2 separate regions of the Homo sapiens genome follow, and region 1 is linked to region 2. Evidence: fine-mapped expression QTL. Tissue or cell type: whole blood. Region 2 holds a variant in brackets; the other region holds the start of a gene. All regions are shown on one strand. Distances are from middle to middle.

Region 1 (8,108 bases), 40 kb after region 2:
GATATATTAGATAAATGACTATCTATGGCAACTATAGCCATATAATATATATATATATGTATATATATATGTATATATAGGTATATATATGTATATATATGTATATATATATGTGTGTATATATATATGTATATATATGTATATATATGTGTGTATATATATATATATATATTTTTTTTTTTTTTTAAGATAGGGTCTCATTTGTGGCCCAAGCTGGAGTTCACTGGCACAGTCATACCTCCCTGTAATCTTGAACTCCTGGGCCCAAGGGATCCTTACATCTCACCTTCATGAGTAGCTAGGACTACAGGCACACACCACCACACCTGGCTAATTATTCTTTTTTTTTTTTTTTTTTTTTTTTTTTTTGTAGAGATGGGGTGCCACTATGTTGCCCAGGCTGGTCTTGAACTCTTGGCCTCAAGTGATCCTCCTGCCTCAGCCTCCCAAAGTGCTGGGATTACAGGTGTAACCCACCATGGCCAGCCATGAAATGTATTTTTTAAATAAGACTTGAAAGTTGAAACTACTCTTTGATCCATGGGCAGCAGAATGGATGTGGTACTAGCAGGCATGAAAACATTAATCTTCTTGTATATCTCCATCAGAGCTCTTGGGTGACCAGGTGCATTGTCAATAAGCAGCAATATTTTGAAAGGCATCTTTTTTTCTGAGCAGTAGATCTCAACAGTGTGCTTAAAATACTCAGTAAATCATTCTGTAAACAGATGTGCTGTCATCCAGGCTTTGTTGTTCCACTTATAGAGCACAGGCAGAGTAGATTTATCATAATCCTTAAGGGCCCTAGGATTTTCAGAATGGTAAATGAGCATTGGCTTCAACTTAAAGTCAGCAGCTGAAATAGTTCCTAAGAAGAGAATCAGCCTGTCCTTTGAAGCTTTGAAGCCAGGCATTGACTTCTACTCTATAGCTACGAAAGTCCTAGATGGCATTGTTTTCCAATAAGTGTTGTTTCATCTACACTGAAACTCTTTGTTTAGTATAGCCACCTTCATCAGATATCTTAGCTAGATTTTTTTTTTTTTTTTTTTTTTTTTGAGATGGAGTCTCGCTCTGTCGCCCAGGCTGGAGTATAGTGGCGCAATCTTGGCTCACTGCAAACTCTGCCTCCTGGGTTCACGCCATTCTCCTGCCTCAGCCTCCCGAGTAGCTGGGACTACAGGCGCCTGCCACCACACCCGGCTAATTTTCTTTTTTTTTTGTATCTTTTTTTTAGTAGAGACGGGGTTTCACTGTGTTAGCCAGGATGGTCCCGATCTCCTGACCTCATGATCCGCCCGCCTCATCCTCCCAAAGTGCTAGGATTACAGGCATGAGCCACTGCACCTGGCCTTAGCTAGATCTTTTTGATAACTTGCTGCAGCTGCTTCACCAGCATTTGCTGCTTCACCTTACAATTTTATGCTCTGAAGATGGCTTATTTCCTTAAACATCATGAACCAACCTCTGCTAACTTCCAACTTTTCTTCTGCAGCTTCTTTACCTCTCAGCCTTCGTAGACTTGAAGAGAGTTAGGGCCTTGCACTCGATTAGGCGTTGGCTTAAGGGAATGTTATGTCTGGTTTGATCTTCTATCCAGAACATGAAAACGTTTCTTTACCAGCAATAAGCCTCCTTCGCTTTCTTATCATTCGTGTGTTCACTGGAGTAGCATTTTTACTTTCCTTCAAGGACTTTTCCCTTGCATTCACTACCTGGCTGTTTGGTGCAAGAGCCCTAGCTTTTGGTCTGTCTCGGCTTTCAATATGCCTTCCTCACTAAGCTTAATCATTTCTAGCTTTTGATTTAAAGTAAGCTTTTGATTTAAAGTAAAATGATTCTTTTACTGGAACACTCAGAGGCCATCGTAGGGTTATTAATTGGCTTAATGTCAATATTGTTGTGTCTCAAGGAATGGGGAGGCCCAAGAGAGGGAGAGATATGGAGGAAGGTATAGGGTTGGTAGAGCAGTCAGAACACACACATTTATGGATTACAGTCGCTGTCTTATATGGGTGCTGTTTGTGATGTCCCAAAGTAATTATAATAGTAACTTCAAAGATCACCATAACATATACAATAATAATGAAAAAGTTTGAAATATTGTTAGAATCACCAAAATGTGACAGAGACATGAACTGAGCACATGCTTTTGGAAAAATGGCGCCCACAGATTTGCTTGATGCAGGGTTGCCACAAACCTTCAATTTGTTAAAAAATGCAATATCTGGGAAGCACAAAGATGTATGCCTGTTAAAGGTTTTAAAGAAGCCATTTTTTTTAAAAGAGAAAACTTTTAAGAAGCTTTACAGATAGAAGACAGTAAGTATTTGTTGACTAAATGGTCAAGTTGGAGTGAGCAGATTTTATAATTTTATTCTACTAACCACCACCAGCAATTTTATTTTTGATGCTTGTAGATGGACAGTGGTGCCAATGTCTATTCGGCCTTCTGTTTTTTTGTTTTGTTTTGTTTGTTTTTTCCTGCCAAAGGACGGTGCTTAGAACTTCCCAGTCTTCCTTGTAGTGGGGAAAATCTGTCACCCCAAGGATACGAATTAGGTAGAAAAGTAATGTAAGAGCCAATCACAACGCGCGCTCCGGAGCGGCTCCAGACTGGCTTCGCCCGGACGACTGGCGGAAGACGAGACTTCGTTACCTCCGTTCAATCGGACAAAGAAGGCCATAATAGTTTAGGACAAGAGAAAATTCCTTGTGGGTTAAACTGCGGTGGGACTGACTGTTACGCAGAAGGCGTAATCGCAAAACTTGTATACACTCTGTATCATGGATACATTATTTTCTGGAATCCTGCAGAAACGATCAGCAGTTGTGATGGCACCAGTACCGAAAATGGCTGTAAGGCGCTCCGGACGCTGGATCAGGTGACGCAGCATCAGGTGACGCAGCCTCAGTCCGCCCCCTTCCCACCAGTGGCTCCTCCTCCTGCTTCCCGGCGTAGCGGTGGGCGTGGCTTGCCCACAGGCTCTTTCTTCTGGGGCCGGGAAAACCGAGGAATACACATGCGCAGTTGGACCCCTCAGGCCCTTCGTGTCCCTTCCCACCCATCTCCCCGCCCCGGCCCTCTGGGCGGGGCTGGGCCGACAGTCCAGCTGCAGCTCGCTGGAGATTCAGTGACTTCCTTGTTGTGAGCCCCGGCCCGGCAGTGTCCCGACTCGTAGCCCCGCTGTTCTTAATCCGGGCCGCTAGCCTGAGTCTAGGTCGCAGCCGCAGCCCCACCCCGTCGGTCACCTTTTCAGCGCAGGTCCTTTCCCCGCACGCCCTGCGCTCCCTAACATGCCCAACCCCAGCAGCACCTCCTCTCCCTACCCCCTCCCTGAGGAAATTAGGAACCTGTTGGCAGGTAAAGAGCGGGAAGGCGGCGATAATGCTGTCGGGGCGGGGGCGAGGGAACGGTGAGCCGGTGGGGACAGAAGCATTCAGAGCCCTTATCCTCCCTCCCCGCGCTTCCCACGTCTTCTAGCCAGTGGGGTCGGCACAGGGAGGAGAGGAGAGGGGTTGTTTTGTCTCAGAAAGGGAGTGGACGTGTGTGTTGAAATTTGGTGCGGGGATGGTGGCGAAGCCCTTTTTGGTGATCTACACAAATGGGATCAGGACGTTTCTATGTGCATTGTGAAGACGGTGTGTGTGTGTGTGTGTGTGTGTGTGTGACAGAAGGGCGGGGGAGGAAGAGTGGAAGAGGGAGAGAGAATGATAATGATAATGAATGCTGCGTGAGCAAGCAGAAGGGAGCAGAAGTCAAATAAGTAGTTCTTGGGTGGTCTGGCCAATGGAGGTAGAGGATGTAGAGATGCAAAGAGCTGTCAGAGCCACAGGTGTTAGGGGTTATGGGGTGAAAGAGTTTGTCATTTCTAAAACTCCCGTTTTTCTTAAACATTCAGCTCACTCACGTTTAAGACTTTTGAAGAAGGTCTGGTTCTCAAATGGCCACTTGTCCCCAGCCTCAGTAATATATTAAAGCAAAAAAGGAAGGATATGTTAAAGTTCTACTTCCTGTGTGACACGATGAAAGTACTTCATCTTTGTACCCTTATCTTCCCTTTTTCAGTTTTACATTACCATTTATAGGAACTTATTTTAGGAGCTAAAAACGTGGTTCTTCAGTAGCATTATGAATCCACTACTAGTTCATTAATTTACTGGATACGGAGGTGTGTATGTTCACTAAGAACCAATAATTTATATTTCTGTACAAGGTAGAAAATATATGTTTTTAAGGTAGCACAAATCTTACCTATCTCAATGTTCTGGAATTTCAACCATCATTTATTTTGTCTTGTGTACGTCAGAATTCTGGAAACTGAATTTTGATTTTTAGTTTTAGATGTCTATAAAATATTTATCTCTCAGTATTGCTTATGAATAACTAGATTACAGATTGCTTATTCTAGCTCTTAAAAAGCAATGTCATCTAAAATGTGACATTTGATGACACATTTTATATGTTACTCCTATAGCAATGTGAGTCCAAATCTCCTAATATTCTGTCATTCAATTTTGGTGCTTGGCATTATTAATATGGTAGTGTAATATTAAGTGTATGAATGTAGACTTATGTTTGTATGATTATGGTACAGTATGTTGAATGCATTTGTGGTGGGATAGTCTTTCACTCTAAGAAATGCTTGTTGTCATTAACGGGTACCACTAAGGGAAATAGTTAAAGAAGTCTAAAGACTGACTTCAGGCAGCTTTATTGCATCACATGACTACTGATTTTGTTTTACTACACTTAACATTTTTTGTTTTTACAATGCTGGAATTGTTTGTTCAGAATATTATTGTAATAACCAGCGCAGAAAAATGTTTATCATTATTCCAAAAATAGATGAAACCATTTTCAGGATATTCTATGTCTGTATTTTTGAATTTAAGAAATAACATATAGACCTCTGGGTGCATGTTTTAAAGCTTGGTACCTCCCATAGTACAGTTTGTTATTTGGATCCATAATCATAAATCACAGATAATATGATATGTAGGTCATGAGAACCTTTATTCTCTTATCCCCATAGATCACAAGTATTTCCTGTGGCCCTTATTTGTGTAATTTAACTAAAAACTCAAAATTACATATTTAAATTATCTGCCAATGCTAACTTCCAATATATTTCTGCCTTCTCTCTTTAGTCAGGTAATATACTAGCATAGCATCTGAAATTATTTTAAGTCATTTTATTGACATTTTCACTATTTTATATTATTAAAGCAAATCACATATTAAAACACACATGAAGTATTAAAAAATATTACAATTAAAACTTTTGGAATTGGAAATTTGGATTACACTTTATTTTCAGAGGATATTTTCAAGAAGTATGGAAGTGAGTTGGGGCGTATTTATGTTTAAAGAAATTTAACAAATCAGTGTTTTTCAGGTTTTAAAAAAACTTATTTGGAAAGTTGCTAACATTTTATGTTTGACTGTAATTAAAATCTTTTTTGAGGTAGAGAACGCTTCAAGAATAGATGCTGTCAGCAATTGTTTCATGTATTTCATCTAAAAATATTGTTAGCATTGTACATGATTCTTTTCATAATTCAAGTGTATTGGGTAATAGTATATGACTAGATTTAGAGTAACATTATAGAAGTATTTATATTGGTTTGAATATTAGAGATATTGCTGGCTTATTTAGTCTATTTCTTTGAAACTGAGGAGATATTGGTAATGGTGTTGTAGTTAACAGTTGAGTGCTCTTAGAATGCATGGTACTATGCTAGAATTCCAAGGTAGAGAAGATAAGGAACTAAACTTTTCAGGGGTTTAAAGTCCTTTGTTTTTAGAAAGAAGAATATATAATCAAAAGATAATGACTGTTAAAATAATGTTGCTTAGATGTATCTGTTTGTGTTCCATATGCCTATTAAACTAAATCATTATATGTCATATGTACTGTTTGAAATTTCACCTGCTTAAAAGGGATAGGTACTCAAGTGTATTCTTATTTATTATTTTTCTTTCTCTTTATTTTTCTGTCTGATTATGGCAGTTCTATGCTATACTTTCAACATTTGTTCCCTCTCCCTTTTTCCTTCCCCTATAAAAACCATTCCATAGAAATGTAAAAAAAAAAAAAAAAAAAAAAAGAGGTTGTTATTGTTAACTCACATGTGTTGTGTAAAGATACCATTGAAAAAGTGGCTATCTAGTTTGATTTTTAGTTATATTTTCTGTGGAGTCAGTCTTGAAGACCTATGCTTTTTATAAAATGTTGATTATTCTTTTGGTTATATGAACAGAAAAGGACTTACAGAATTTCGTTGTTGAAAGCAAATTTTGAGCTGCCATATGCATTACAGGCAACCTTTGATTTTTTTCTTTTCTACAACAATGGAAAAACAGGTTTAGCCTGGATAATTGAAATCAAAGGACAATCCCAAATCTTGTCCATTTAATCTTCTCTCACATCCAAATATTTTGACTAGGACTAGCAGCAAGAATAATCTTGATTTATGTGATTTTTTTTTTTCTCTAGACAGGCAAGAAAGTAAGAGGAACTAGAACCACTTCCCTCCAGCCTCCTTCATTTGTTTAATCACCCTTTAAATAATGGTTTGTTAGTGGCTTGCAATCAGACCTTCTCATTCATCCTCATTCATTTGTTTTAGGACAACAAATTTTAAAAGGAAAGCTCTAAGAAGATGTTATTTTCTGTTTACTAAATTAGCAAATGAAACCATTGTTAAAAGAAGAAAATAGTGATTGTTAGTGCTCTGAAAAATCAAACCAAACCAAACAAACAATAAATAAGTGATCTTGAGGTTTTGTTCACATGGCACTCTTGATTAGAAATACCACATTTTCCCTACTGGGAATTTTTAGAACATTAGAAAATTTTTTCCCACACATTGATTATAATGTGTGAATATTTTTTTCACACAATATTATTTAGGGTATGTAATCAGTCCCCTAAAGGGATTCCTGTAGGGGCACTAGGTGAAGAGTGCAATTTATTTGAAATAGAGGCAGAATTTTTTCAATGCTGAGTATATTACGGTTTAATTTCCACCTTTCCAAAGTTCCATTTATAATTTGGTCAACATTTTGGTTTTATTTTTCCTATGAGAATTATTTATGGTGTATCTAGTGTCCCATAACTTCCTTCTGGGACATTGGCTGAGTATGTAAAGGGAAGAGTGCCACCTACTGAGTCACCAATAGTCACCTACCTCCTTAGCACCTGGGTTTTCCTATGGAGCAAGAACAAGCCTGCCCCATTTGGGCAGCAATCACTAAAGAGCATAAAGTTGATATGAGAACATTTAATCTCAAAATGAAATCTATCGTACCTCCAAGATATTCTTTTCTAGAAATAGGAATATATGTAAATTAAGGGACTAGAGGTTTACAGAGTTTTTTGTATGGGCTAAATAATATAGATGAATTAAGATGTGGTGTTAGGAAAATTATTTGCCTATTTTAAGTATATAATGTCCTGCTTTTTCTTGGGAGGAGATCTTTTGGCATGGCTGTCCATTGAAAGTATTTTCATCTCATTACTATATAAGGCTCTTGATACTACGTACAGTTTTTATAGCTACCCAATCCAAATTATCATTGGTTTTCTTCAAAAAGAAGAATCTAAACATATTAAAAAATTAGCATTATATGAAAAATTTGCAAATGGGCTTATTGCTCCTGTTACCAGCATTAAAGTATTACTAGAAAGAAGGTAGACACAACAGAGTAGGAAAAGCTGCTGGTGATTTGAAACACAGTTTAGTTGTCTCATAAATTTCAGATTAAGTGTCATATATGGGTGATAAAAGTGGCATAGGCTAGATTTTATATACTCATGATTCACTTAGTTTGTCTTTTTCAATTAAAGCTAAGTCTCTTTTTCATTCCACTGAATTTACATTTCTTTTTCAATCACATTCTGAACACATTACAATAGATGCTGCCTAAAACTGAATATAGTGTAAATCTCAGACTAATGTGTTATTCACTGTGGCTTCTTTGAAAATATGTAGTAAAAAGATTTTGATTATTGTAAGGTGCTATTTATCAAGAGTCATCTTTTAGGGTTGAAAGATGTTCAGCCCTACCTTTAAACAGCCCAGCTTTCTATCAAAATACATCA
Region 2 (8,109 bases):
CTTTATCAGTTAGCTTTTGCACCATAATAAACTATCCAAAGCTTTGTGAATTATAATAATATCTATTATTTCTCACAGTTTTGTGGGTTGACTGTGTATTTCTTCCATCAAAAAAGATAGCTAGATTGTCTAGGATGGTTCCACACATGTCTGGTGATTGTTCTATGTCTGGTGAAGTGATAGCCATGTATCTATCATCATTAGTAGGGCTAGTTCAGGCTCATCCATATGGTACAAACTCATAGTGCACAAAGTCATCGTGGTACAAAGTCACATATGCAAATTTGTGGGCCACCTTTCACAGTCTACCACAATTCTTTTCTTTTCACTTCAGTTTTGCTTATCTTCTTTATTCTAGTACTGAGGGGAATTCACTTTATTAACAGCTTGATTGGTTACCTTACCAATCATTGACTTTCTTATTATGCTACCTAATCAAGACTGTGTGAAGATTTACTAATACTGTGCATTTGGCATAATAGTTGTTCATGACTTCATCAAACTATGTTTCTTTGGATCTTTATGGTGAGTTTAACTCTTCCTTTTATTTGAGAATTCCATACTCAAAATCATTGAGTATAGAATTATTAGTCTTGGAATTAAGTCTTAGTCTTAGTTCTTAGCCTTCATTATTTGAGTTCTAGTTGAGTTAAAACTGTTATACTTTGAGGGGCATGGTTTACCACTCACAAGCTTTTATACTCCTTTCTTTATTATTACAGAACTGATATTTTCCATAAGATTGATCTTGCCATTAAGATGAATACTGAATACAACTATGAACTTGAAGAATTGACTATAGTAGAGTGAATGAAATTTCAAATTATATATATATATAATGTGTGTGTGTACATATATATATGTATATGTACACACACACACACACACACACACATATATACATATATATGTTCTGTTTTCTCTGCACTGGGAGTAGCAGTTCCAGAGGAGAAGGGAGTTTGAGAGAGATCAATTTTGGGAGTGGGAAATGGAATTATATTTTGAGGAAAGTATCTCCTTAAGGCTTTTGCATTCTTAAATCTGTCAGAGGAGCCATTTATTCTCTCATAAATCTGTAATGATACACAGTTGCACATAATGGTTTGTAATTTCCTTTGGTCAGCAAAGAGAAAAATGAAAGAAGTAAACAAGTACATGAACCCAGTAATGTCCACCCAATATTTCATAATAGCCCCCGAGATGGTAAACCTAAATGATCTTGCTTGCTGAAAATCATGGCAATATTTGAGAGGATGAGTTTCCAGTCATAAATGGAACACAAATAATGAGATGATTTCTTCTGCCCTGAATAACCTGAAATATTAGCTACAATTTCCTTCAACTTGTGAGCCTTCTGCATTCATACAGCCCTGTAATAGAGTACTCAGTGTCAATGCCCATTTCCTATACTGATCATATAAAAAAACTTAACATGTTTATAAACTGAAAGCTTCAACCAAAAGTTTGACATTGTTTCACTGAACTCTCAAATTCATATCTTATCATTTCAAGATAACTTTTCTATGTTCCTCCCTCAAAAATGAAGAGTTTATGTTAGAATAAATAAATTTTATACAAAAGTGTCTGTTGAAACCAAGATGTATTTTTATATCCATGTTATTATTAAGAATGATATGTAAAAAAATCAACCTAACTACCTGAAGAAATTATTTTGTTAAGTAGTTACTAGGACTGATGTATGATAAACTCACTATCATCTGAAGGGTAAACTATTTACTCATTTTCCATGAGCAGTTTACAGCCAGTAAGAGGTTTTTTTGACTTCATATCAGATACGTGAATACTACCAACATTCCTTGAATGCCTGATGCCTCTGATCTAGAATACTTAAATTTCCTTCTTACTGATGTTTCTTTTTTTCTTTCTTTCTTTCCTTCCCTTCCTTCCTTCCTTCTTTGTTTCCCTTTTTTTTTTTTTTTTTTGGCAGAGACAGGGTTTTGTTCCATCACTCAGGCTGGAATGTAGTAGTGTGATCATAGCTCGCAGTAACCTTGAACTCCTGGGCTTAAGCATTTCTCCCACCTCAGCTTCTCAAAGTAGCTAGGACTATAGGCATGCACCACCATGCCCGGCTAATTTTTTTTTCTTTTTTTTGAGTGACACAGGTCTTGCTATGTTGCCCAGGCTGGTCTTGAACTCCTAGCTTCAAGTGATCCTTCCTCCTCAGCCTCCCAAAATTCTGGGATTACAGGCACGAGTCACAGTGTCTGGCCTTGATCTTTCTTACTTTATTTTTTGACTACCACCAAACCATTTCATGTATTGCTATCAGAATAGTTTTTCTTAAGCTGTCATTATTGCTTATGGAATAAAGCCCAAATTTCCTATTTGGCGTTCAGACTCTCTATTAGCAGGTATAAATCCATCTATTTTCACCTTTATCTTAATGTAATAATTTCAGAAATAAGGTTAACCCTAGCTCAGCTATAAAGTTTTTTTGTTTTGTCTAGAGCTGACTGATGCTTGTTTACTGAAGGTGCTGAGCACTTTACCTAACATAAGGAAAAAATAGACTCATTTTAAGTAGGCAAAGTCATGCAATCAGGTTTTTTGTTGTTTTTTTTAAATTTTTTTTTATTATTATACTTTAAGTTTTAGGGCACATGTGCACAATGTGCAGGTTAGTTACATATGTATACATGTGCCATGCTGGTGCACTGCACCCACTAACTCGTCATCTAGCATTAGGTATATCTCCCAATGCTATCCCTCCCCCCTCCCCCCACCCCACAACAGTACCCAGAGTGTGATGTTCCCCTTCCTGTGTCCATGTGTTCTCATTGTTCACTTCCCACCTATGAGTGAGAATATGTGGTGTTTGGTTTTTTGTTCTTGCGATAGTTTACTGAGAATGATGATTTCCAATTTCATCCATGTCCCTACAAAGGACATGATCTCATCATTTTTTATGGCTGCATAGTATTCCATGGTGTATATGTGCCACATTTTCTTAATCCAGTCTATCATTGTTGGACATTTGGGTTGGTTCCAAGTCTTTGCTATTGTGAATAGTGCCGCAATAAACATATGTGTGCATGTGTCTTTATAGCAGCATGATTTATAGTCCTTTGGGTATATACCCAATAATGGGATGGCTGGGTCAAATGGTATTTCTAGTTCTAGATCCCTGAGGAATCGCCACACTGACATCCACAATGGTTGAACTAGTTTACAGTCCCACCAACAGTGTAAAAGTGTTCCTATTTCTCCACATCCTCTCCAGCACCTGTTGTTTCCTGACTTTTTAATGATTGCCATTTGGTTTTGATTTGCATTTCTCTGATGGCCAGTGATGGTGAGCATTTTTTCATGTGTTTTTTGGCTGCATAAATGTCTTCTTTTGAGAAGTGTCTGTTCATGTCCTTCGCCCACTTTTTGATGGGGTTTTTTTTTCTTGTAAATTTGTTTGAGTTCATTGTAGATTCTGGATATTAGCCCTTTGTCAGATGAGTAGGTTGCAAAAATTTTCTCCCATTTTGTGGGTTGCCTGTTCACTCTGATGGTAGTTTCTTTTGCTGTGCAGAAGCTCTTTAGTTTAATTAGATCCCATTTGTCAATGTTGTCTTTTGTTGCCATTGCTTTTGGTGTTTTAGACATGAAGTCCTTGCCCATGCGTATGTCCTGAATGGTATTGCCTAGGTTTTCTTCTAGGGTTTTTATGGTTTTAGGTCTAATGTTTAAGTCTTTAATCCATCTTGAATTTATTTTTGTATAAGGTGTAAGGAAGGGATCCAGTTTCAGCTTTCTACATATGGCTAGCCAGTTTTCCCAGCACCATTTATTAAATAGGGAATCCTTTCCCCATTGCTTGTTTTTCTCAGGTTTGTCAAAGATCAGATAGTTGTAGATATGTGGTGTTATTTTGTTTTGTTTTGTTTTTGAGATGGAGTTTTGCTCTTGTCGCCCACACTGGAGTGTAGTGGCATAATCTAGGCTCACTGCAACCTCCACCTCCTGGGTTCGAGTGATTCTCCAGCCTCGGCCTCCTGAGTAGCTGAGATTACAGGCACCTGCCACCATGCCTGGTTAGTTTTTGTATTTTTAGTAGAGATGGGGTTTTTCCGTGTTGGCCAGGCTGGTCTCAAACTCCTGACCGCCCACCACAGCCTCCCAAAGTGCTAGGATCACAGGCGTGAGCCACTGAGCCCGGCTTCATCAGGCGTTTTGTTTCGTTTTGTTTTGTTTTTGTTTTTTTGAGATGGAGTTCTGCTCTTGTTGCCCAGGTTGGAGTGCAGTGGTGCCATCTTGGCTCACCACAACCTCCACCTCTCAGGTTCAAGCGATTCTCCTGCCTCAGCCTCCCAAATAGCTGGGATTACAGGCATGTGCCATCACACCTGGCTAATTTTGTATTTTTAGTAGAGATGGGATTTCTCCATGTTGGTCAGGATGGTCTCGAACTCCCAACCTCAGGTGATCCACCCATCTCGGCTTCCCAAAGTGTTGGGATTACAGGCGTGAGCCACTGTGCCCTGCTCATCAAGTTTTTAATGGGTCTGAGGATTCTGTATCATGTCAATCTGTAAGGCCTAGCACTGCTCAGGGCCTTCTCTGCAGTTTAGATTCAACAAATACCTATTAGGAGTTCATTATGTGTCAGACATTTTGCAC[G/A]TAACATTATATTGTAATCCTCAAAACAGTCTTGTCAGGTTTTATCACAGTTCATATAATAGTATCACAATTTTTACATAAGGAATTTGAGCTCAGAGAAGGTAAAAAAATATACCCAAAGTTTCATGACTGCTCAGAGTGGAACCAGAATTTGAATAGCATTTTCCTGAATCTACAATCTATGTTCTTTTCCCTTTATCACAGCTGTGGCATAAATTCAACATTGTGCTGTTTTCGTTCATCCCAGAACCTTCCCATAGTTTTTTTAGGTGACCTTTGCACCAGGATGACCTTGGGAGGTAACAGCCCAATGAATGAATTTTTTAGAGTTACTGTGTTCCAGAGACTTCCTCTCATATATGGGAGGCTCTGGATTGTTCTTTCTCATGTGGTCAGGACTACATGTTGCATGATGACAAACAGATGCTTTCTTCTTGACACTATGTCTTGTCTGGGTATTTAAAGAGTGACAGTGATAATGAAGATTAACCTGCAGTAATGCTGCACATGTACTACTTTACGAGGTCAGAGTTCACAGTCTTCAGCGTATTCACTGATGTTGCTAATGATGCTGTAAGTAGAAATGAATACAGGCCATGCATTCAAAAGACATTCCTTATATTATCCTTTAAGTTAAGGATTTCTAAGACATTTGAGATATTCTACTGGGTTTTGGGTCTATAAGAATAATTGAAATAGACCTTGAAGTCTTTAGTTAATCGTAAAGGAGCCTTTTCCCACCTACCTCCCAAATAGTTGTATCTTTTCTCTTTCCTTTTCTTTTCTTTTTTTGGAGATGGAGTCTTGCACTGTAGCCCAGGCTGGAGTGCAGTGGCGCCATCTCGGCTCATGGCAACCTCCGCCTCCTGGGTTCAAGCAATTCTCCTGCTTCAGCCTTCCCAGTAGCTGGAACTACAGGTGTACGCAGCCACGCCTGGCTAATTTTTTGTATTTTTAGTAGAGATGGGGTTTCACTGTGTTGCCCAGGCTGGTCTCGAACTCCTGAGCTCCGGCAGTCCGCCTGCCTCGGCCTCCCAAAGTGCTAGGATTACAGGCGTGAACCACTGCGCCCGGCCCCAAATAGTTGTATCTTACAGGATAAAAATTTTGTGGAAGCTCTTTAAAAGTAAACAGAGAATGTTTGGTCATAGAAATATCAAATACTAATAAGGAACACCTAAGCACTTTAGGTGCATTGGAAAAATATTTAACTTGTTGAAGCCAAATTTCAAGTATATTGGACTTCTAGACTGTGGTTTGGTTTTAATTTTGTATTCCCAAGCCAAAAAAATTTTTTTTTTAAATAGGAAACTCTTTTTAATCTATATACTCCCTGAATTGTTTTTCTATATATTTTGATTATATGTCTCAAAAGCTGAAAAGGGCCTGAAATTGTATCCTATTTGCAAGCTAAGTTAGCCTGTCAGTTTCATGGGTGCTGGCAGAAGATATAATACTCCTGGGTTATATATACTCCTTGGTTATATAATAAACCAAGGACAGTTTATTACTTATAGCATTAACAGTAGACAGAATATCAGCATTTATACCAGCCCCTTAAACCTCAAATACTGCCTGGCAATGTAAAGAGGAGCAGGTGATATTTGCACATGCAACGGGGAGTATTATAAATGAAGAACCCTGAGTTCAGAGAACCCAAATCATTTATAATGGGCCATAAGCATGTCTGTCTTTTGCCCTAGGAGACACTGTCTCTATATTCCAGAGCTGAAGGCAAACTTGCCCTTTGCTTCAGAGCAAAACACTACCTGTACCACCCATAGATGATGGCTTGAAACAATAGTCTGGAACAGAGGCAGTCAATGTTTCTGCTTGTAAGACGTGCAGAAATGTGAGAGACCCATGGAGAATTATCTCCCAACATGCAATTTCTGGAGTCCCAAGAAACTTTGGGGAATGCTACCAACTTGACACGTTTAATAGAAATAGAAGACCAGTTATATCCTGTGGTTTCAGGGGTCCTGACCCTCAATTTAACTACATATCTTGTTTTACCATCATAACTTTGCTTCTTCGACTCAAGCTTTAGGTCTGCAAATGAGTCCCTTATCAAATTGCAGCTACTGCTGGAAATATTTCAAATTTATAACTTCATACTTTAGTATACAAAGGCTGGATATCATAGGAGAAGAATATTCCTGGGCTTGGAATTAGATATAGGCTGGAAGCCTAGCTCTGCCACTGACTATACTGATGTTCACTCTTTTGGATTATCAAATAATAAAAAACTAAGCCCCAGCTACTTGGGAGGCTGAGGCAGGAGGATTGTTTGATCCCAGGAGTTCGAGGCTGTCGGGAGCTGATTGCACCCCCTGCACTCCAGCCTGGGTGACAGAACAAGACCCCATCTCTAAAAACAAACAAACAAAAAATAAAAGAAAAGAAAACAAATTAACAAAAACTAGAAAACATGGAGAAATGCTATTAAATTTCTGAGAAAAAATACTTAGCAAAATAAAACTCTATACCTATCTAAATATGAGGGTAAATGTGTTTTCAGATATGTAAAGTCTCAACAAAGTTACTGCCCTTGTACCATTTTTTCAAGAAAGTGTGGGAAGATATGTTCCATTAAGATGAAGAAGTAAAATCAGAAAGAGGAAGTCATGGAATAGAAAAGACAAGGGATCTAATACAGGAGAGAGGCAAAGGATCTGGATCTTTGCCAGGATGCTGGCAAAGGAAAGCCCCATAATGGCAGATATCCAGCATCCTAGAAAACAGTCCAGAATTTAATAGAAGGACAGGAAAGTCCATATGGATGTCTCCAAGAAACAGATTAAGCTGATAGATTGCATGAAGTGTTTGACTATCTTGAGAAGAGTTTTCAGTCCAATGGAGCATTTGAGAATGAGTTTATGACAGCTATGTAGAAAATCAAGCAACCAAAAATAATAGACACAAATATAAACTCTTGGGAAATAAAGTTGTGTAAGAAATGTAATTACAATATACTCCAAAACTGAGATGTAAATAATGTTAATAGATTCATAGTTATATAAGCTTTAATTGTGGATTTAGCCCAAATGGATGCCATAATTATGTTGGAAAGATGGAGAAGGGGAAATATGTATGTGTTTTGGGTGTGTGTGTCAGGCGGGGGGTTATATTAAAAGAGGTAACCCATATTCCATAGAATGAAGTAAATTAAATAATGTTTAAAATTCAAAAATCAAGAAATAACTGTATAACCACATTATTAGAAAATGGATGTAAACATCAAAAGAAATAGCTAAAAAAAAATTAAAAGTGGTTACCATAAGGAATCAGGAATAGGAGCTGAAGGGGAGTTTGGCTTGGGGACTGCTTTTTTCTCATGTTTTATTTTTAAAATTATGTACATGTATTACTTTGATAAAAATAAAAATTAACTTTAAAATGTAATGCATTAATTGGCTCATTGCCAGTTAAATGTTTAGTAGAGATTAGTTGAAATTATAAATGGGATGATGCCTA

The links. PIP is the estimated chance that this variant, and not a neighbour inherited with it, causes the effect.
Region 1: it holds the start of SKAP2, and the variant in region 2 is fine-mapped to the expression of SKAP2 in whole blood (INTERVAL, PIP above 0.99).

The regions. Positions count from the first base shown.
Region 1 is chr7:26,859,619-26,867,726 of GRCh38, reverse strand. SKAP2 (src kinase associated phosphoprotein 2) reads left to right here and starts at 3,137. Exons shown (of 13, transcript NM_003930.5): 1 at 3,137-3,364. The coding sequence starts at 3,298. RefSeq lists an enhancer at 2,570-2,899.
Region 2 is chr7:26,899,671-26,907,779 of GRCh38, reverse strand. No RefSeq gene overlaps it. Among named protein-coding and RNA genes, the nearest start is that of SKAP2, 39 kb to the right of the region's middle. The variant G/A (reference allele first, on the strand shown) is at 4,633.